Linked DNA regions of Homo sapiens. The gene in region 1 interacts genetically with each later gene. Each region holds a gene or a part of one and is shown in the gene's direction. Other genes may lie near its edges.

Evidence for each region.
Region 2: changes in THOC1 (region 1) and ACTL6A together harm fitness less than expected from each alone (positive genetic interaction), as found in Homo sapiens cells (one large-scale study listed by BioGRID).
Region 3: changes in THOC1 (region 1) and GEMIN5 together harm fitness less than expected from each alone (positive genetic interaction), as found in Homo sapiens cells (one large-scale study listed by BioGRID).
Region 4: changes in THOC1 (region 1) and MCM2 together harm fitness less than expected from each alone (positive genetic interaction), as found in Homo sapiens cells (one large-scale study listed by BioGRID).
Region 5: changes in THOC1 (region 1) and CHD4 together harm fitness less than expected from each alone (positive genetic interaction), as found in Homo sapiens cells (one large-scale study listed by BioGRID).

The regions. Positions count from the first base shown.
Region 1 is NC_000018.10:226,083-230,178, reverse strand, and holds part of THOC1 (THO complex subunit 1), read left to right. Parts: intron 1-3,277; coding exon 3,278-3,378; intron 3,379-4,096. UniProt on the Homo sapiens protein: Component of the THO subcomplex of the TREX complex which is thought to couple mRNA transcription, processing and nuclear export, and which specifically associates with spliced mRNA and not with unspliced pre-mRNA.
Region 2 is NC_000003.12:179,565,806-179,569,901, forward strand, and holds part of ACTL6A (actin-like protein 6A), read left to right. Parts: intron 1-4,018; coding exon 4,019-4,095; intron 4,096-4,096.
Region 3 is NC_000005.10:154,886,722-154,890,468, reverse strand, and holds the end of GEMIN5 (gem-associated protein 5), read left to right. Parts: intron 1-1,051; coding exon 1,052-1,148; intron 1,149-2,091; coding exon 2,092-2,259; 3' UTR 2,260-3,058; downstream 3,059-3,747. UniProt on the Homo sapiens protein: The SMN complex catalyzes the assembly of small nuclear ribonucleoproteins (snRNPs), the building blocks of the spliceosome, and thereby plays an important role in the splicing of cellular pre-mRNAs.
Region 4 is NC_000003.12:127,604,530-127,608,625, forward strand, and holds part of MCM2 (DNA replication licensing factor MCM2), read left to right. Parts: intron 1-78; coding exon 79-254; intron 255-347; exon of another isoform or gene 348-366; coding exon 367-627; intron 628-1,588; coding exon 1,589-1,808; intron 1,809-2,080; coding exon 2,081-2,288; intron 2,289-3,852; coding exon 3,853-3,987; intron 3,988-4,096. UniProt on the Homo sapiens protein: Acts as a component of the MCM2-7 complex (MCM complex) which is the replicative helicase essential for 'once per cell cycle' DNA replication initiation and elongation in eukaryotic cells.
Region 5 is NC_000012.12:6,572,981-6,576,975, reverse strand, and holds part of CHD4 (chromodomain-helicase-DNA-binding protein 4), read left to right. Parts: intron 1-3,706; coding exon 3,707-3,902; coding exon of another isoform or gene 3,903-3,905; intron 3,906-3,995. UniProt on the Homo sapiens protein: ATP-dependent chromatin-remodeling factor that binds and distorts nucleosomal DNA. Acts as a component of the histone deacetylase NuRD complex which participates in the remodeling of chromatin.

The DNA.
Region 1 (4,096 bases):
ATGGATGTTGGAGCCTCTCATTGAATTAGCCAATGCTGGAGAACAGCTTTTGTGGAGGAAATTGATGTTTTACTTTGTTCATGAAATCTGATCAGGTGTCAGTTGAACATTCAGGTAGAGATGTGTGATAGGTTGTCTAGTGTACAAAGCTGGAGACTAGGAACAAGATCTAGGTTGAGAGTATAGTTGTAGGAGTTACCAGTTTATAAATGGTAATTCAAACTGTAGAGTGTATGAAATGAGCTAAAGGGGAGAGTGTAGATTCAGAAGAGAAGAAAATACTGAAATCCCGAAGAAAACCCATGTTTAAGGGAGAATGAAGGGAGAAGAGGAGAAGATTGAAGAGTAACCTGTGAGATTAGAGAAAAACTAGAAAAGCATGCACTCATGGAAGCCAAGCATATCAAGTAGGATGAGGACAGTAAAGAGTGTTCACAGGATTTAACAACAAATAAGTCATTGGTGATCTTGACAAAACACTTTCTTCCCCCGCCCCAAGACCGATTGTTGCTCTGCTGCCCAGGCTGGAGTGCAGTGGCATGGTCTGGACTCATTGCAACCTCCGCCTCCCAGGTTTAAGCTATTCTCCTGCCTCAGCCTCCAGAGTAGCTGGAATTACAGGGCATGCACCACCACGCCCCGCTAATTTTTTTTTTTTTTAAATAGAGACGGGGTTTCACCATGTTGGCCAGGCTGGTCTCGAACTCCTGATCTTGTGATCCGCCCGCCTCAGCCTCCCAAAGTGCTGGGATTACAGGCGTGAACCACCACACCCAGCCGACAAAAACACTTTCAATGGATTAGTGGATGAGGCGGTCAGATGATAGCAGGTTGAGGAGCTGATTGGCAACAGTGCCTATAGTCAATTATTTTAAGAAGCTTTGCTGTTAAAGGGTTAGGTGAGAATGTGGGAGATTTTTGAGGGAGCTTATTTAATGCTTATGGAAAGGAGCTTGGAAAGAATAGGTTGTAGATACAGAAACCAGGGCAGTTAGTTGATGGAACTCAATTGTTAGGGATATTGGGATTCCAGATGGAAGGTAATCCAGATGGAATACCTTTAGCCGTGAAGGAGTTGTGACAGAAGGAAATGAAGTAAACAAAGGTGTAGGTGCAGCTGATTTGTCATTTTGGGGGCCAAGAAATGAAATGCTTTCCAATTTAATTTTTCTTCTCATTGAAGGCAAAAGTAGTTATCTACTGAAAGTGAGAAGGGGTGGTAAAGTAGTATTTTTGCTAAGTGGAAAGGGTTGAAAATCATTACTGTGAAGAGTAGGAGAGAGAATGGCCTTGAAGAATAAAGAAAGATTGCTGATTAAAAACAGATGTTTAAGGTGGTGACAACATACCAGTGGTGCCTTCTGCATAGCTGTGTAATTTGGGGTATTCACTCAGGCACCTCACTTTCAGCTGAGATTGGAATCCTGAGGGTTGGTATAGAGAAGGTGACTAACAGTTGGTTTATTCAAGGTTGCTGTTTGCTCACTAGACATGACAGAAGAAATATGGGACAAGTGTGTTGAAGTTGGCAAGAAAATGGCCGAAGAGATTAACCATGAAGTCTAGACCAGGAGTTGGCAGACTATAGCCTATAGGCCAAATCTGGCCCACCACCTGTGTTGGTTGTTTTTGGTGATTTTGGTTTTTTTTTCCCCCTTACATTTTAGATGTTTAAATACCTACATAATATCCATAATATGTCTCTTAGCCCACATAACCTATTAATAAAAATACTTACTATTTGACACTTCAGGAAAAAGTTTGCTGACCCCTTATCTAGACTAAAATAGGATTATAATAAAATGGGATGGGACTAACAGGCAGAGAATAGACGGGTCAAGGGCCTTAAAGTCTCGGTAAGATCCAAATATTAGGTATATTGGAAGCAACTGAGCGAGAGACCTGGGAAGGATAGAGGTTGTGGTGAGATAGGATTGTGAGTTGAAGACTTCAGATCTGGGGCAGCTGTGAGTGACCCCAGGTCTAGCTGTGGCCACAGTAGTGGGTAGCTGGAGCAGAGATGGGCCTGTCCGTGGAGTTAAGGGCAAGGAACTAACAGCCTGAGTGGAGACAGTCAAGTTGCCCAGGGGCTGGAGGAAGGGAAGGCTGATGGCCGGCCATTCACATTTCCAATTTGGGATAGGAGAGTTAATATAAATAACAATCAAATATATTCAATCCTTAAACGTGAGGGAAACCTGACTGGAAGGCTGATCATTAATTTTTTTTTTTAAGACCTGGAGCCACAGTGTGGAAGGGGTTGCTAGTGAATAGGGAGGCTTGTGCGTGTTAGGTAGCATTAGTAAATGGTACCAACCACGTAAAGCAGAGCCACCAGCACTTGGGACATTGAACCAAAACCAATCTTCGACGCTTCCAGCTGCCTTACTGGCGATTCATTTAGAAGAACGTGGCTTTCCTTTGTTACTGTAGTTTTTGAAGGCAGAACTAGCATGAGTTTGTGGATACAGACTTCAGCCTTCCTTCAGTGTTCCATGCACATAATCAGAATGACCTTCCTTCATCGCCGCAGGTTATTCTTACAGCTGGATGGCAGGGTCGTTGAAGAACTTCCTCATGAGTGACCTTCAAGTCCTTTCTAATCCAGATTCTGTGATAATACAAGTATGATGCAATTTTCACTAAAAGCTAAAAAAAAAAGCCCATCTAATCAGAGATGATCTTCACCTCTAATTTCTTGTTTATTGTCAAGTAATACCTCTGTTGCAGGCACTTTATAGGGCTACAAAAATGAGTGGTCCCCGTTGATATTGTGCTGTTATCCGTATCTTCTTTAGCCATTATTTCTTCATATGTGAGAAAGTAGTAGCCTCAGTTTTACTTTAAAAAAAAATTTTTTTTTTAAATTTAGAGTCTTGCTATGTTGCTCAGACTGATCTCGAACTCCTGAGCTCAAGTGATCCTCCTTCTCAGCTTCCTGAGTAGCTGGGACTATAATAGGCTTTGTGCCACCATGCCCAGCTTACTTTTTTCTATTTCTGCTTTATTTTATCCTCATGTCTGGACCATAGATAGATCATTGTTATCCACCAGCAAGAATGTGTCATGGCATAAAACAGTCAAGAAATCTAAGTGAAACCTTGACTGGGCTGTCTTTGGGCTTGTGCGGTAATGCCTCACATGCAGTGAACTCTCAACAAATGGCTTTTAAATTGAATTGGAATCTTCCATTTCTATATTAGCACATTTTGTACCTTTAGGAAAAACTTGATTTTAATGTGTTGTTTTCGTATGTGTTTGCTTGTTTCTTGAGTAGCTGATGGATTTACAACTGAGTGACAGTAACTTTCGTCGACACATCCTGTTGCAGTATCTCATTTTATTCCAATATCTCAAGGGGCAGGTCAAATTCAAAAGGTAAGATAATATGGGTAGTAAACAATTTGTAAACAGTAGCCAAGAAAAAAAAGGACTTGCTTACGATTTTTCTTATGTATGTGTCCATTTCATGTTAAGGCTGTATCCCTAAAACACATGTATTGCAGCTGATACATTGAAGGCTTTTCGATATTAGGATATTTAAGGAAAAGATGTTAAATATATCTGTCAGTGTGAGTTTTTCCTGCCCAACTCCAGGGCTTGCCAGGAGTTGTCGTCTTTATTAGCAGGTGGAGGTCTCTGCTCCAAAATTCCGTCATTCCCTTCTCACCTCCCTCAGACCTCCTCCAAAGCTGATTTGCAGACTAAGCCAGTAATACATATCTCACAAGGTGTGGAGCTCTGCAGGACATTCAAGCTAAAAGATGCAAAGAAAATTTTTAAGCAAAAAGGAGTTCATTTATTTGGGGTTTCACAAAACCTCATTAGGCTCTCTACTGTCTATCTAAATACTTCCATCCATTTCCTCCTATCCTGTCCATAACTGAAGGTGGAGCCCACTGTTACTTAACGGTATTTGTGTTAAGGACACTGAGCAATGCCGTATTAGTTGTATAATGACTTCACTACCTGCTGGGTTTGAATCCCAGGCTCGTCATTTGCTGGCTGCAGTGCAGCTCTTTCAGACTTGTAATTTTAAGGTAGTAGCACATGGTAAACACTCAAAAAATGTTATTTCTTATCCTTCTATCTATTT
Region 2 (4,096 bases), on another chromosome or scaffold:
ATTCACCCCCTAATTTTTTTTGAAGGATTTATGTACCAAAATAATGACAGTTACAGTATTGAAAGATCATAGTGCAGCAGTTGGAAGGGTGGATTGAAGAGGCAAAGAGGTGGAGGCACAATATCTGTAGGGAATTGTAGTTTCCCGGTTGAGATAAGAGCTCGATTGAAGGCAGTGGCAATGGTATTAAAAAGGAGGGGATTTGAGAAATACTTAGCAGAAATATTTGGCAGAACTTGAAAGATGGAGGTGTTCACAAAAACTCTCAGATTTTTGCCAGTGTGGACTGGTGGTCAGCAATGTGTTAGGCAATGCTGAGATCAGCAGTGCTTCAGATGTGTTGAATTTGAGATACCCATGAGGCATCAGATGCAATTATGTTGATGTACAGTGAAAAGTTCAGGATATGGATGTAGACACTGGTTAGAGCTTGAGAGAGAGAGAGATTTGAAATTGGAATTATCAGTATTTAGGTAGAAGTTGAAGCTATAGGAGTAGAATATATTACCCAGGAAAGGGTAAATTAGGGAAGGAGCTCCTAACATAGGGTTTGTGGCCTTCCCAAAGTTTCCATGGTAGAACTATATTTTATTATAATTGGCTTCTTTTATAAACATTTAAAAACATTCTAAGAAGGGATTCATAATTTCCTAAACTGTATTAGTTTGTAGGGCTGCCATAATAAAGTACCACAGTCTGTGTGGCTTAAACAACAGAAATTAGTTTTCTCACAATTCTAGAGGATAGAGGTAGATCTAAGTGTCAGCAGAGTTGGTTTCTTCTGAGGTCTGTCTCTGTGTGTAGATGGCCATCTCCTCCTCTGTCTTCACATGGCCGTCCCTCTGTACAAGTCCAAGTCTGAATTTTCTCTTTTTGTTGTTGTTGTTGTTGTTGTTGTTTTTGAGACTGAGACTTGCTCTGTCACCCAGGCTGGAGTGCAGTAGCACGATCTCAGCTCGTTGCAGCCTCCGCCTGCCGGGTTCAAGCAATTCTCCTGCCTCGGCCTCCAGAGTAGCTAGGACTACAGGTGCATACGGCCACGCCCGGCTAATTTTTTGTATTTTGGGTAGAGTTGGGGTTTCACCATGTTGGCCAGGATGGTCTTGATCTCCTGACCTCGTAATCTGCCCGCCTCTGCCTCCCAAAGTGTTGGGCTTACAGGTGTGAGCCACCGCGCGCCCTGCCTGAATTTTCTCTTAAAAACATCACTCATACTGGATTAGGACCCAATCTAATGATTTCATTTTAACTTAATTACTTCTTCAAAGATTCTGGTTTCACCGGGCATGGTAGCTCACGTCTATAATCCTAGCACTTTGGGAGGGCAAGGCGAGTGGATCACCTGAGGTGTGGAGTTTGAGACCAGCCTGGCCAACATGGTGAAACCCCATGTCTACTAAAAATATAAAACCTAGCCGGGCTTGGTGGCCAGCAGATGTAATCCCAGCTACTCAGGAGGCTGAGGCAGAAGAATCACTTGAACCCCGGAGGTGGAGGTTGCAATGAGCTGAGATTGTGCCATTGCACCCCAGCCTGGGCGACAGGAGTGAAACTCTGTCTCAAAACATAAAAATAAATAAATAAATAAAGAATAAAGACTCTGGTTTCAAGTACAGTCACATTCTGAGGTACTAGGGGTTAGGATTTTGACATATGAATTTTAGGGCGACACAATTCAGTCCACAACACTGTCATAAGGGTCCATAACACAGAACAGGTTAAGGGCTCCTGGCGCAGGGCAAAAGATAAATCCTTGAGGAACAGAAGTTGAAATTTTTGGTTAACTATACAATTAATTCATTTAATTAGGATATCTCTTTACCCAGCATTCTGGTTAATAAAAGTATTAAATTTTACCAACTCATATTCATTGCTATACTTACGATTTGTACTCAAGTTTAGGTGCTGTGGTGAAAACAAATACAGTGTTCTCCTTTTAAGGACCCCCTAGTTTCTGACAAAATAATTTGGACCAGAGAATTTCACAGGGAAGGGTTAATTATCTTGAGAAATGTAACAAATACGTAAACTTTCTTTTATATTAGAAATTAAAATATGTCTCTGTTTTATTTGAATAAAAATGAGAGGCTGGGCGCGGTGGCTAACACCTATAATCCCAGCACTTTGAGAGGCCAAGGCGGGTGGATCACGAGGTCAGGAGTTTGAGACCAGCCTGGCCAATATGGTGAAACCCCATCTCTACTAAAAATACAAAAATTAGCTGGGCATGGTGGTGCGCGTCTGTAGTCCCAGCTGCTCAGGAGGCTGAGGCAGGAAAATCTGTTGAACCTGGGAGGTAGAGGTTGCAGTGAGCCGAGATCACGCCACTGCACTCCAGCCTGGGCAGCAATACAGCAAGACTCCGTGTCAAAAAAAAAAAAAAAAAAAGAGATCATTCTGCAAAGCTACTGTCTCTTAACTGATACTTGCAAAGTAATGGGTTTGATTTTAAAAATTTTAAGTTTTTGAAATATTTTAAACATATTAAAAATATGTAAGTTTGTATGTGATATTACTGTAATCACCTGTAAGTTTGTATGTAATACAATACTGCATTCACCAGTGAGATTAAATAGATGTCATATTTTGCCATATTAATACCTCAGATATTTTAAGAATAAAAATGTTATTGATACAGATTTCCTCTCTCTCCCTTCTTCAGTTCATGTAACCACTGAACTGAAGTTGGTATGTAACATTCCCAGACCCCATGCATATTTTCTTTTTTTTTTTTGAGACGTGTGTGTGTGTGTATATGTGTATATATGTATGTGTATACATATGGTTTTTTGATAACTAGCTTTTAAAACTAAGCATTCTTTTAGATTTATTGATGCTGACATATGTAGATCTAAAGTGTTCATTTGAACTGCTGTACAGGATTCCATTGTGTGAATATATTATTGCTTATCTATTTCCCTGCTGAGAGACCATTAGATTATTTCTGCCTTTTCCTATGGCAAGCAGTGTGTCAATTATAATAGCAGCTTACACTTAGCATGTGTATTTTCTAAGACTTCATATACATGAAAGCACTTAACATGTTTAATCATTAGAGTATCCTGTGAGATAAGAGCTATTATGTACATTTTACATATTAGGAAACTGAAGCAGAGAGGTTAATAAATTGCTCAGTTCTTGTAGCTGTTGAACATTCTTTTGCATGTCTCCTTGCAACCTGTATGAGAGAGTGTCTCCAGAATAAGTAAGTGTAATTCTATGTATGCACAATTTCAACTTTAATAGATATGACTAAATTGCCCATAGTGGTTGTCCCACTTTGGACAATAAATTATAGAATCACCCTAGTTGATGGTGGAGGGAGGTTGCTGGTATATTTATTAGCCTGGTTCATTCACCTCAGGGTAATCCATGGCTAACTGCATCCCCTCTACTAAAAGTCACAGCTCCTGTCAGGTAGCCCTCCCCATACAACTTTCTCTCCAGATTCTGATAACAGTTATTTCTTCTTGTTTCTTCAGTTTGAAGAATGGCAATGGATCCATTATTATTAGTTATCATTATAGTACTGGGGTACTGTACTGTCCCTTCTGGTTGTCCTGTATTTCACCTATATCTTTGCAAATAATTCCCTTTAATAAGTAAACTGAAATTACCCAGTTTTAGTGTACCATTTCTTAACTGATTGAACCTCTACTTAAATACGGTGTATGCCTTGTTATATTTTAATTAAATGATTCTTTAAGGTGTATTTGAAACTAGGTTCAAGTGAGTAATAATATGAATATAATTGGGCTGAGTGCAGTGGCTCATGCCTGCAGCACTTTGGGATGCTGAGGCAGAGGATTGCTTGAGCCCTGGAGTTTGAGTCCAGCCTGGGCAACATAGTGAGACCTTATGTCTACAAAAAATTTAAGAAATTCATTGTAGTCCCAGCTATTTGGAAGACTGAGGCGGGAGGATTGCTTGAGCCTAGGAGGTTGAGGCTGCAGTGAGCTGTGATTTTCATATGATACTTTTGCAAGCTGTTAATGCTAATTATCTTTAATCTTTTCAGATGAAGTTGGAGCCCTTGTTTTTGACATTGGATCCTATACTGTGAGAGCTGGTTATGCTGGTGAGGACTGCCCCAAGG
Region 3 (3,747 bases), on another chromosome or scaffold:
ATTAAATTTTAAGAAGCCAGGTGACAAAGGAATTTTATTTATAAAATGAGATAAAAGTAACCCAGGCAGGGGCATATGCTCTCAGGGCCTCCTGAGGGCTGTGTCATAGGCAAAAGTTTAAATTTTTAAAAAATATTAAAAATAAAAGGTAAAAGCTACCCAGGCATAACAAAAGATAATCCAATTCAAGGATGGGCAAAGGACTTGAATAGACATTTCTCTAAAAAGCCAGTAAGCACAGGAAATGATGCTCAACATCTCATCATTGGGGAAATGCAAATCAAAACTACAGTGAAGCAGCACTTCATAGCCATTAGGCTACTATCAGAGAAACAGAACAAGTGTTGAGGAGGATGCAGAGACATTGGAACCCTTGTGCCTATTGGTGGGAATGTAAAATGATGCAGCCACTGTGGAAAACAGTACAGCAGCACTTCCTCCAGAAATGTAAAATAGAATGACCATAGGATCCAGCACTTCCACATCTGGGTATACACCCAAAAGAATTGAAAGCAGGGTCTGAAATATGTGCACACCTGTGTTCATGGCAGCATTATTCATAATACCCAAAACACGGGAGCAACCTAAGTATCCACTGACAGATGAATGGATAAGCAAAATGTGCCATATCCATACAATGGAATGTCATTCAGCCTTACGAAGGGAGGACATCATGCTGAGTGAAATAAGCCAGTCACAAAAAGACATATACTATATGACTCCACTTATATGAACTACTCAAAATAGTTAAATTTATAGAGACAGAAAGTAGAATAATGTTGACAGGGGCTAAGGGAAGCAGAATGAGAAGTTAATGTTTAATGGGTATAAGATTTCAGTTTTACAAAATGACAAGAGTTTTTGGAAATGGGTGGTGGGGATGTTTTTCACCACATTATGAATTTATTTAAAATCACTGAACTATGTATTTTTAAATGGCTAAGATGGTAAGCTTTATGTTATATACATTTTACCACAGTAAAATAACAATGGGAGAAAAATGTTACCCAGGGCAAGACATACAATTTACACCTTTTATTTTTTTCACTAGTAAAGAAGAAAAAAATGAGCCACTTTCTCTGCCTGAGTTAACCAAAAGGCTTACCGAGGCAAATCAGAGAATGGCGAAATTTCCTGAGAGCATTAAGGTAAGAGTTAAAGCAGTTCATTTGGTAAAGCATCACTTTTTGTGTTATCACTTGACTATACCACATTCTTATAAAGGTCAGCTACCTCTCTGTTCAGTTTCTAAAATCTCTACCCATTCATATGTGCTTAAGAATTTAGAATCCAGGCTGGGCGTGGTGGCTCACGCCTGTAATCCCAGCGCTTTGGGAGGCTGAGGCTGGCGGATCATGAGGTCAGGAGATCAAGACCATCCTGGCTAACATGGTGAAACCCCGTCTCTACTAAAAATACAAAATATTAGCCGGGCGTGGGGGCAGGTGCCTGTAGTCCCAGTTACTCGGGAGGCTGAGGCAGGAGAATAGCATGGAGGCAGGAGAATGGCGTGAACTCAGGAGGCGGAGCTTGCAGTGAGCCAAGATCACGCCACTGCACTCCAGCCTGGGCAACAGAGCGAGACTCTGTCTCAAAAAAAAAACAAAACAAAAAAAAAGAATTTAGAATCCAATTACTTTGGTTAGCTAGAATGTTTTGTGAGACTAGAATTATCGATCACACAAGTAATTTTATACCTCAATCTTCAGAGAAACCAAATAGATTTAATAGGTAAGAAGTAAAATTTAAATTGGTGCCATGTATTAGATAGCTTACAGATGGACAGGTCTTTTTGGCTGTGGGCCCAAATATTAATAGAAGCACCATTTTTAAGGGTGGATTTGCATAGGGCTGTAGAAAGAGATTGTGCCATTGAGAAGGACATCGCAGTAGCCATCCTAGTTTTGAGTGTCATTTCTCCTTGGAGTAACTGTTGAAGAGAAAGACAGGACATTGCCTTAGGAGACAGCTGGCTCAGCTGTGTCCAAGAAGTGTCTATAGATGAACCTGAGTGACTGGTGCCTTCTGTGCAGGTGTTTGTGGCTCTTCTGCAAATGCTTCCTTATTCATCCTCATGTCATCGTCTTTCAGGCCTGGCCCTTCCCAGATGTGCTGGAGTGCTGCCTCGTCCTGCTTCTCATCAGGTCCCACTTTCCTGGCTGTCTGGCCCAGGAAATGCAGCAGCAGGCCCAAGAGCTCCTTCAGAAATACGGCAACACGAAAACTTACAGAAGACACTGCCAGACCTTCTGTATGTGAATTTTCACACACCTTGAAGAAACTGCCAAATTGAAAATGTTTGACATCTTTCACCTCTGCAGTTATGCCTCACCAGACATTCACTCTGGTCCCTAGATGTTTTTGCAGTAATCCAAAAGAATACAAACAAGGATTAAGTTTGAATCAACCCTGCCTACCCATAGACAACGGTGGATCTGACTTTAGACTCAATTGTGGTCTCCTACTGGAGGGAAGATCATGAAAAGCCCACAGTAGTTATTCAGAACTAACACCTGCAGAGTGTTGGTCATCTCTACAGCCTTAGGCAGGTTTCACCCAAAGAGGAGAAACTTCTGTCGTCACCCAAAGTGTTACATGCTTAAAACACAAGCTACCTTTGTAAATACTTCATCTGATCAGAAGTGTGTCATGCTTGTTTGAGATGGAGTTGCTGCATTTTAGGACTATTGATACCTTTTTTTAATTGTTTTTATAATATTTAATTTGAAAGAGGAGACCCTTCTCTCTCTACTCTTTCATAGACTGAAGTTTGAATATGAAATAGGCCTTAACCATCATGTTGACTCTCCTGTCAGAATTTTAGGTTGGAAATTTGGTTTTATTCTTTCATGTAATTGCTTATTTGAACAGATCACTTACTAAAGCTTTAGAAGAAGTGATTCAAATGTGTGTTTTCCCTTCAGTTTTATAACAAATGGATTGATGGCAGTCAAATAGCTCAGGAATAAATTACTGTTTCAATGGTTCTTAAACTTTCTTGGATCATAGGATCCTTTTGAGAATCAGATTAAAGCCAAAGATACTCTTTGGAGAAAAATGCATATTCCTAATTTTGCATAGATGACCTTTGGATTATTGGACTCTGACTATTGGGACCCTAAATACTATTTAATTATAAATCTTTTTTTTCTCCTCCTTGGTTATTTAAACAGTTGAACAGTGTCAGGAACAGATGTTTCTGTAATGTCACAGTTGCTAGCATGGGAAAATCAGAGTCTGGCATGGGTGTAGGAAGGAACACTCCTTTCAGATAATTGAACTGTTTTCTCTAGGATTCATTGTGAAGGCTTTTCTGCTCACGTTTGTAGTTTATTTTTCAATTAATTCCTAGGATTGGAGCTGTTGGGACAGTGAGAATGAAATTCATTTACAGGAAGTCCCAGGAAGGAGAAAGTTTGAGGCAGTTTTCAAAGACGTGTATGTGCCTAGCATTAGAGTTTAATAAACTCACAAAGGGAAATACTGTAGAATTTAGATCCTCACAGTTCTTCATACAGTGAAGTGAACTTTAGGAAGACGATGCTTTGTTACCAGGGATGGAGAATCTTTCTTGATTGCAAAGACATAAATAGGCATGGCTAGGTAGAAAACCTAGCCTAGTTGGTAGGACACCAGTTCTACCAACTGCTAAAATGAACTTTACTTACAGAGGTGGAAAAAATATATACTCCCTTCCACTTGAGTAAAGAGTGATATTGTTAAACTAGAATTCTAAATTCCTTTGTG
Region 4 (4,096 bases), on another chromosome or scaffold:
GCCCAGTTCCTGGATGGGGTTTGGTGCTTAGGGTTTTCCTTTTTGGCAGTAACCACATCTGTTTTGGTGCTCCCTCAGGGACTACCGCGCCATCCCAGAGCTGGACGCCTATGAGGCCGAGGGACTGGCTCTGGATGATGAGGACGTAGAGGAGCTGACGGCCAGTCAGAGGGAGGCAGCAGAGCGGGCCATGCGGCAGCGTGACCGGGAGGCTGGCCGGGGCCTGGGCCGCATGCGCCGTGGGCTCCTGTATGGTAGGTCCAGTTGTCTGCCTGCCCGAGGGACTGGGAAGCTGGGAAGGAGTCTGGGAGGGGAGTAGAAGGTGCTGGGGATGACCGCAGTAGCAGGTGTCTCTTGCCTCCCCAGACAGCGATGAGGAGGACGAGGAGCGCCCTGCCCGCAAGCGCCGCCAGGTGGAGCGGGCCACGGAGGACGGCGAGGAGGACGAGGAGATGATCGAGAGCATCGAGAACCTGGAGGATCTCAAAGGCCACTCTGTGCGCGAGTGGGTGAGCATGGCGGGCCCCCGGCTGGAGATCCACCACCGCTTCAAGAACTTCCTGCGCACTCACGTCGACAGCCACGGCCACAACGTCTTCAAGGAGCGCATCAGCGACATGTGCAAAGGTGTGGCTTCCCTACGCCCCCGCCTCAGCCCCTGTAGCGCCTCCCTAAATCCTCCCCAGAAAGTTGTCTGAGCCGAGTGAACACGTGAAGCACAGGGCATATGGCTGAGAGGTCTGTCAGAGAAACCAAAAGTTTTGAGTTTTGCATCAGGGCTCTCCTGCTGGCTATGCAGTGACCACATCTGGGCCACCAAAGCGTTTTTTGACAAGCTTGAAAATGGACAGATTTTATATAAAAATCTGGATTACTACTTTGATCTTTGTAATAGGAATTGACTCTTTTTTTTTTTTTTTTTTTTTTTGAGACGGAGTTTTGTTCTTGTTTCCCAGGCTGGAGTGCAATGGCACGGTCTCGGCTCACTGCAACCTCCGCCTCCTGGGTTCAAGCGTTTCTCATGCCTCAGCCTCCCGAGTAGCTGGAATTACAGGCATGCACCACCATGCCTGACTAATTTTTTTTTTTTAGTAGAGAAGGGGTTTCTCCATGTTGGTCAGACTGGTCTCAAACTCCCGACCTCAGGTGATTTGCCCGCCTTGGCCTCCCAGAGTGTTGAGATAACAGGCGTGAGCCACCGTCCCCAGCCAGGAATTGACTTTTAAAAGGGACATGTAGATCTTGATTCCTGCAATTCCTTCCACTGCTTTTTGTCCTGTGTTTGTCAGTTTCTTCCTGGCTCTTGTAAGGCGTTTCATGTTTGTAGCTGTGTAGGCACTCTGCTCATATTTAATTTAACCCCCCAGCAACTTTGTACACTGTGTGACATGCCCATTTTACGGAGTAGGAAGTTGAAGCTCAGGCTATGTCACAGCTGAAGTGTGGTAGACCTAGAAGTGAAAGCTGGGCTTTCTAGGTCAAAATCAATGGTCGGGGTGGGTAGGCCTTGCTTCTCACACAGGCATTGTTGCAGCCCAGCCCAGGCCTCATGCTTAGTTAACTCTCTTCCCACTGTGCCCCCTTCTAGAGAACCGTGAGAGCCTGGTGGTGAACTATGAGGACTTGGCAGCCAGGGAGCACGTGCTGGCCTACTTCCTGCCTGAGGCACCGGCGGAGCTGCTGCAGATCTTTGATGAGGCTGCCCTGGAGGTGGTACTGGCCATGTACCCCAAGTACGACCGCATCACCAACCACATCCATGTCCGCATCTCCCACCTGCCTCTGGTGGAGGAGCTGCGCTCGCTGAGGTGAGCTGAGGGCAGGTGAGGATGGCAGGTCCGAGCTCAGTGCTGGGTGACTCGGTCGTGATTCCTGAAGAGCGATTGTGGTGTGGGCGGGGAGGGTGCAGCCAGCAGCATCCTCATCGCAGGTGAGTTGTGGTTGCACAGGAGTGTGATGGGAGGGATCTTCCCGGGCTGGGGGCTGGGCCCAATTTCCAGGACAGTGTGTTGGGACACTCTCGTCTGCAGCCTGGCCTCACCCTGGCTCACGGCTTCTGATGCACCCTCTGCCTCCGCAGGCAGCTGCATCTGAACCAGCTGATCCGCACCAGTGGGGTGGTGACCAGCTGCACTGGCGTCCTGCCCCAGCTCAGCATGGTCAAGTACAACTGCAACAAGTGCAATTTCGTCCTGGGTCCTTTCTGCCAGTCCCAGAACCAGGAGGTGAAACCAGGCTCCTGTCCTGAGTGCCAGTCGGCCGGCCCCTTTGAGGTCAACATGGAGGAGGTGAGAGAGGACACAAGGTCTGCTGCCAGCTGTCCTTAGGGGTGCCCAGTATGCAGGACCTGACTGGCCTCTCAGGCTGTGGAAGACCAGTGTGGGCAGCCGCAAGAAGCAAGATAGAATTGTGTGTTGGCCACACCCTGGGGTGGACCCAGTCTGTCTGGCCAGTGGACTTAGCTTGGCCCACACGACGTTTTTAGGAATTCAAGTCAATATTTAAGTCAGGCGATTTGTTTAAACCATACAAGTTTATGGCTCCTCTTGAAACATGAGAAGATCTGGCAAACAGGGCCCACTTCTTGCCAGGTCACTCCTTCAGGATGTGTGCTTACCAGTCTCCATGGTGCCATCACTCACGTGGGGTGGCTGCAGTCCCATCGGGACTTCCCCTCAGCTTGTTTCTGGGACCTGTCTGGCTCACGTGGGGCCCCTGGACCATACCAACCTCCTGCACCATATTCAGGAGACGCTGCCAAAGCCTCTGATGTTAAGGTCTTAGGCACATGTAATGTGCCTTTGTACTTGAGCGTCCCTGTAAATGGGCTCATCGCCATCGCTGTGGTGGCGCCCAGGCCCCTTGACTGCCTTGCTGCTGTGGCTGTTGGCTGTCCTCTTCTCACCGCTCTGCAGTGCAGTTCTGCGAACTGTCCCAGCTGGAGCCACCTTGCCAGAAAATGCCTCAGAGGTTCCACCTGTGGCCACCTACAGCCAAAAGCTGACCCGTCTCGTCTCGGGTGGGGCAGCTGCAGGCCAGATGCCAGCTGAGCCACGTCTTTGCTCACTCTTCCCATGCCCTGTCTGTCTCCCTCAGGCCTTGCTTCTAGGGACCTGAGATAGTACCTGGTAGAGGGTTAACAGTTACAGCTATCATTCATGGAGTAACTTACCAGTGCCAGGTGGTGGGTGGTTTATTACCTGGTCCTTTTTCACAGCTCATGAGGCAGGAACTGTTACTGGCCCCACTTTGCCGAGTGTTTAGAGAACTGGCTGAGGTCACCCAACCAGAATGTGTGTTAGAGGTCCACAGCTCAGGCATCTTGATCTAGAGCATGTGCTTTTAACTGCAGTGCCATGTTGTGAGATAATGGGTACGAAATGACATGGCACAGTGCTGGCCTGTGATACTTGACAGTGACAGCCAAAACTTCCTGTAACTTAACATTTATCAGATGCTGGATTAGGTTGATGTATGTATGACTTGCTTTAATTCTTATTGTGAGGTTGCAGAGAAGGCACAGAGAGAGGAAGTCACTTGCCCAAGATCACACAGCTTAGACACAGAACCCAGGCAGCCTGGTTCCAGCATCGGTACTCAAGACAGCTTAGCTGTAAAGCATAGAGCAGGTGCTGAGTCTGGCCGTCAGAAGGCATCCCAGAGGGATGGTGTGGCAGGAGTGGGGACTGTCAACTGATGTGCTGAGTCGCCATGAACTCATTCCTTGCTGTCTTTGGCTCTCCATTTGCCACTCAGGAGTCGGAATCCTGCCTGTTCTCCCTCCTGTTCGGGGGTCAAGGTTAGGTGACATAGTAAGTCAGTGATTTGAGGCCTTCTGTGTGTCCCTCGCAGACCATCTATCAGAACTACCAGCGTATCCGAATCCAGGAGAGTCCAGGCAAAGTGGCGGCTGGCCGGCTGCCCCGCTCCAAGGACGCCATTCTCCTCGCAGATCTGGTGGACAGCTGCAAGCCAGGAGACGAGATAGTAAGTGGCCGGGGCAGGCTGGGAGGGAGCCAAGTTGCAGAGGGAACTGGCAGAAGCAGTTGTGGCTGGGCCGGTGGCGGTGTCTATGGTCGCAGGGGCACTCGGGCTA
Region 5 (3,995 bases), on another chromosome or scaffold:
AACAGAGTGAGACTCTGTCTCAAAAAAAAAAAAAGACGTGTCTGTTGTCTCGTACGCTGAGTATAATCGGGGAAGAAATGGTACACTAATAAGCCTTCAGGTATTATGTACTAAGCAATGATGTGCCCAGGGATAAAAAGACAAAGCATGGTATCTGTTTTCAAGGAGCTTTCAGTTTCAAGTAGGAGCACATGTGTAATCAAATGAATGCCATTCTGCATATCAGGAGAGAGATTGCTGATTGGCATAAGAAAGTTCTCCAGAATCGCTTGAACCCGGGAGGCGGAGGTTGCAGTGAGCCGAGATCGCACCACTGCACTCCAGTCTGGCGACAGAGCGAGACTCACCTCAAAAAAGACAAGAAAAGAAAGTTCTCAGAGAGGCAGACACAGTGGCTAATCTCAGCATTTAAAAGAGCTGATTGCTTGAGTCCAGGAGTTCAAGACTAGCTCGGGCAACATGGCAAAACCCCATGTCTACAAAAAATACAAAAATTAGCCAGTTCTGGTGGCGTGCACCTGTAGTTCCAGCTACTTAGGAGGCTGCAATGAGCCTAGATTGTGCCATTGCACTCCAGCCTAGGCATTGGAGTGAGACCCTGTTTTGTTTTGTTTTTTCCTGAGACAGTGTCTTGATGTGTTGCCAGGCTGGAGTGCAGTGGCAAGATCTCTGCTCACTGCAACCTCTGCCTCCCGGGTTCAAGCGATTTTCCTGCCTCAGCCTCCCGAGTAGCTGGGACAACAGGCGTGTGCCACCACGCCCAGCTAATTTTTGTATTTTTAGTAGAGACAGGGTTTCAGCATGTTGGCCAGGATGGTCTCGATCTCTTGACCTCATGTTCTGCCCGCCTCGGACTCCCAAAGTGCTGAGATAACAGGCGTGAGCCACTGTGCCCATCCAAGACCCTGTCTTAAAAAAAAAAAAAAGTTCTCGAGAGGGAATTGGAGTAGGGACGGAACTCACAAATGGCTTTATGGAGAAGATGGCATTGGAATGAAGTTTTGAAGAATGCGACGGAGATTTTTTTGGTAGAAACAGAAGGGTATCTGAACAAAGGGATTAGGTTGGGCAAAGATGTGAGCCAGCAAAGCTTAGTATGTCTGGAAATAGCAGATAGCCCAGTTGAGCTGTAGGGAAACATTTGTGTTGGGTGATGGTGGGAGGTAGGTTGGAACGAGAAAGGTGGACGGGCTAGAGGTCAGTAGGTGGGTTCTTGGCACCAGATAAGAGAGTTTGGACTTTACGCTATCGTTAATGGGCAGCCACTGAAAGTTTGTGAGCAGAGTTTTGATAGGACCAAGGGAAATGGAAACAGCATTCATAAGATTATAAAACTGTCATATAATCATGAGGTGTTAAGGGTCTGGGCTGTGATGCTGGTTGTGGAAAATGAAAAGGGTAAAGATAAAGGAAACAACACCAAAGAATTTATTGGACTTAGTGACTTACTGTAGGGGTCAGCAAACCTTTTTTTCTCCCCCCAAACCAAAAACGGTTAATAAAACCCTTTTTTTTTTTTTTTTTTTGAGACAAAGTCTTACTCAGTTGCCCAGGCTGGAGTGCAGTGGCGACATTTCCTGGCTCACTGCACCCTCTGCCTCCTGGCTTCAACCGATTCTCCTGCCTCAGCCTCCTAAGTAGGTGGGATTACAGGCATGTACCACCATGCCTGACTAATTTTTGTATTTTTAGTAGAGATGGGGTTTTGCCATATTGGCCAGGCTGGTCTCAAATTCTGGACCTCAGGTGATCTGCCCGCCTTGTCCTCCCAAAGTGCTGGGATTACAAGTGTGAGCCACTGCACCCAACCACACCTTTTCTATTAAAGGGCCAGATAGTCCCTTTGTGGGACATGTAGTCTCTGTTGCATATACTCAACTCCATCTTTGTTGTGTGAAAGCAGCCACAGGGGATACATAAATGAATAAGTTAGGATGTGTTTCAGCGTTTCATCTATGGATATTACAATTTGAATTTTGTATAATTCTCATGAAGTGGCATGAAATAGTCTTGTTTTGACTTTTTGCCAACCATTTTAAAATGTAAAACCCATTCTTAGCTCTTGAGCCATATAAAAACAGGTGGTGGGGCAGATCTGGCCCACAGGCTGTAGCTTGCCAACTCCTGACTTACTGGATTTGAGGTACAGAATGAGTGAGACTGAAAATAACATTTTGAGCCTGAGTCACTGAGAAAGTTAAATTGTCATTTAAGAAGAGAGGGAGCAGTTTGTAGAAAAGAATGATATCGAATTTTAGACAAGTCTTTTGGTATTTCTCACAAATCAGCACCCCTCCCACTACCGACCCCCATCACCATACACTAGTGGGATCAGAACCAGTGCTGAAGGTACATGTTTGAGAAGCATCAAATCATCTGCATAGAACTGCTGGCTGACACTAGGAGAGGAGAAGGGTATGAGAAATCTTCTCTTATGTTGAGTCATATGTTTTATGAATATATTTTTTAAGTAATTAAAATCTTTTCATAAATTAAGAACCAACATTCTGCCTCTTGGGATATATTTCAAAGAATCTTTAATACAGCTCCATCAGATGACATGTGCATGAGTGTTTTTGCAGTATGATTTTTGGTGGTGGGGGCCTAGAGGCAACATAAATGTTCAGCATTAGGAGAATGCATAGGTGAAACATGTATTCATATCATGGGGCATTAAACAACAGAAGCAACAAAATTCATGTGCATACAACATAAGAGTACCTTTTAAAAGGTATGTAGTGGGAGAAGAAAAAGCATTTTATAGATACAGAAAACATCATTCTGTAACTTAGAAACATACATAGGAAACAGAAACAGTTTTTAAAAACCTACACAAAAAGCCACAGTATTACTACATTAGAAAAGTTGCTTTTCAGAGGAATGGGAGTGAGATGGCGATAAGAGGAAATAAAAAACAAAAATATTTTTAAATAGCAAAATAACCCCTTTTTTTTTGAGACAGTTTCCCTCTGTCACTCAGGCTGGAGTGTAGTGGCGCGATCCTGGCTCACTGCAACCTTTGCCTCCCGGGTTCAAGCATTCTTCTGCCTCAACCTCTTGAGTAGCTGCAGTTACAGGTGCGCACTACCATACCTGGCTAATTTTTGTGTTTTTAGTAGAGACGGGGTTTTGTCATGTTGGCCAGGCTGGTCTTGAACTCCTGACCTCAAGTAATCTGCCCGCCTCAGCCTCCCAAAGTGCTGGGATTACAGGTGTGAGCCACCGTGCCCAGCCAAAACATGTTTTTGAAGAGTAGTTGATAAAGAGTAGATGATAAAAAGGAAGATGCTTAACTGTGTAACTAAATGAAAACATAATATGGGTATGTATATAGTATGATCTCAGTTATGTAAAAAACTATGCACAAAAAAACCTAAAAAGAAAAATATCAGGATGTATTTCTAGAAGGTGGGATTATCTGTTGTTAAAAATTTTTGATATTCTATTTTCTAAATTGAGTTTTTATCGCTTTTGTATAAGAGAACCTAAAGGGTAAAGAGTTTTAAAAATGAGGACATTGAAAAAGGGAAAGAAAAAAGTTACAAGGCAAAGTTAAACTACTTGGGTGTGGGAATGAGCTGTCCATGAAGTTCTTCATAGGTTCTTATTACCATCTGAAACAATGAGAGGTGAGCTGAGAGGCCAGTCAGAAGTGAGTAAAGTGAGTTATCAGTCGAACTCCCGTTTCCTCTTATCCCTTGTCCAGCTCTTAGAACAAGCTCTGGTGATTGAGGAACAGCTGCGCCGGGCTGCTTACTTGAACATGTCAGAAGACCCTTCTCACCCTTCCATGGCCCTCAACACCCGCTTTGCTGAGGTGGAGTGTTTGGCGGAAAGTCATCAGCACCTGTCCAAGGAGTCAATGGCAGGAAACAAGCCAGCCAATGCAGTCCTGCACAAAGGTAGCCAGTGGCTCCCCTGCCTCCTGCCGATTCGGCCTCCCTGATCTGACTGCATCCTAATGTACATATATTTGTTTTCAAACTTTCAGAGCT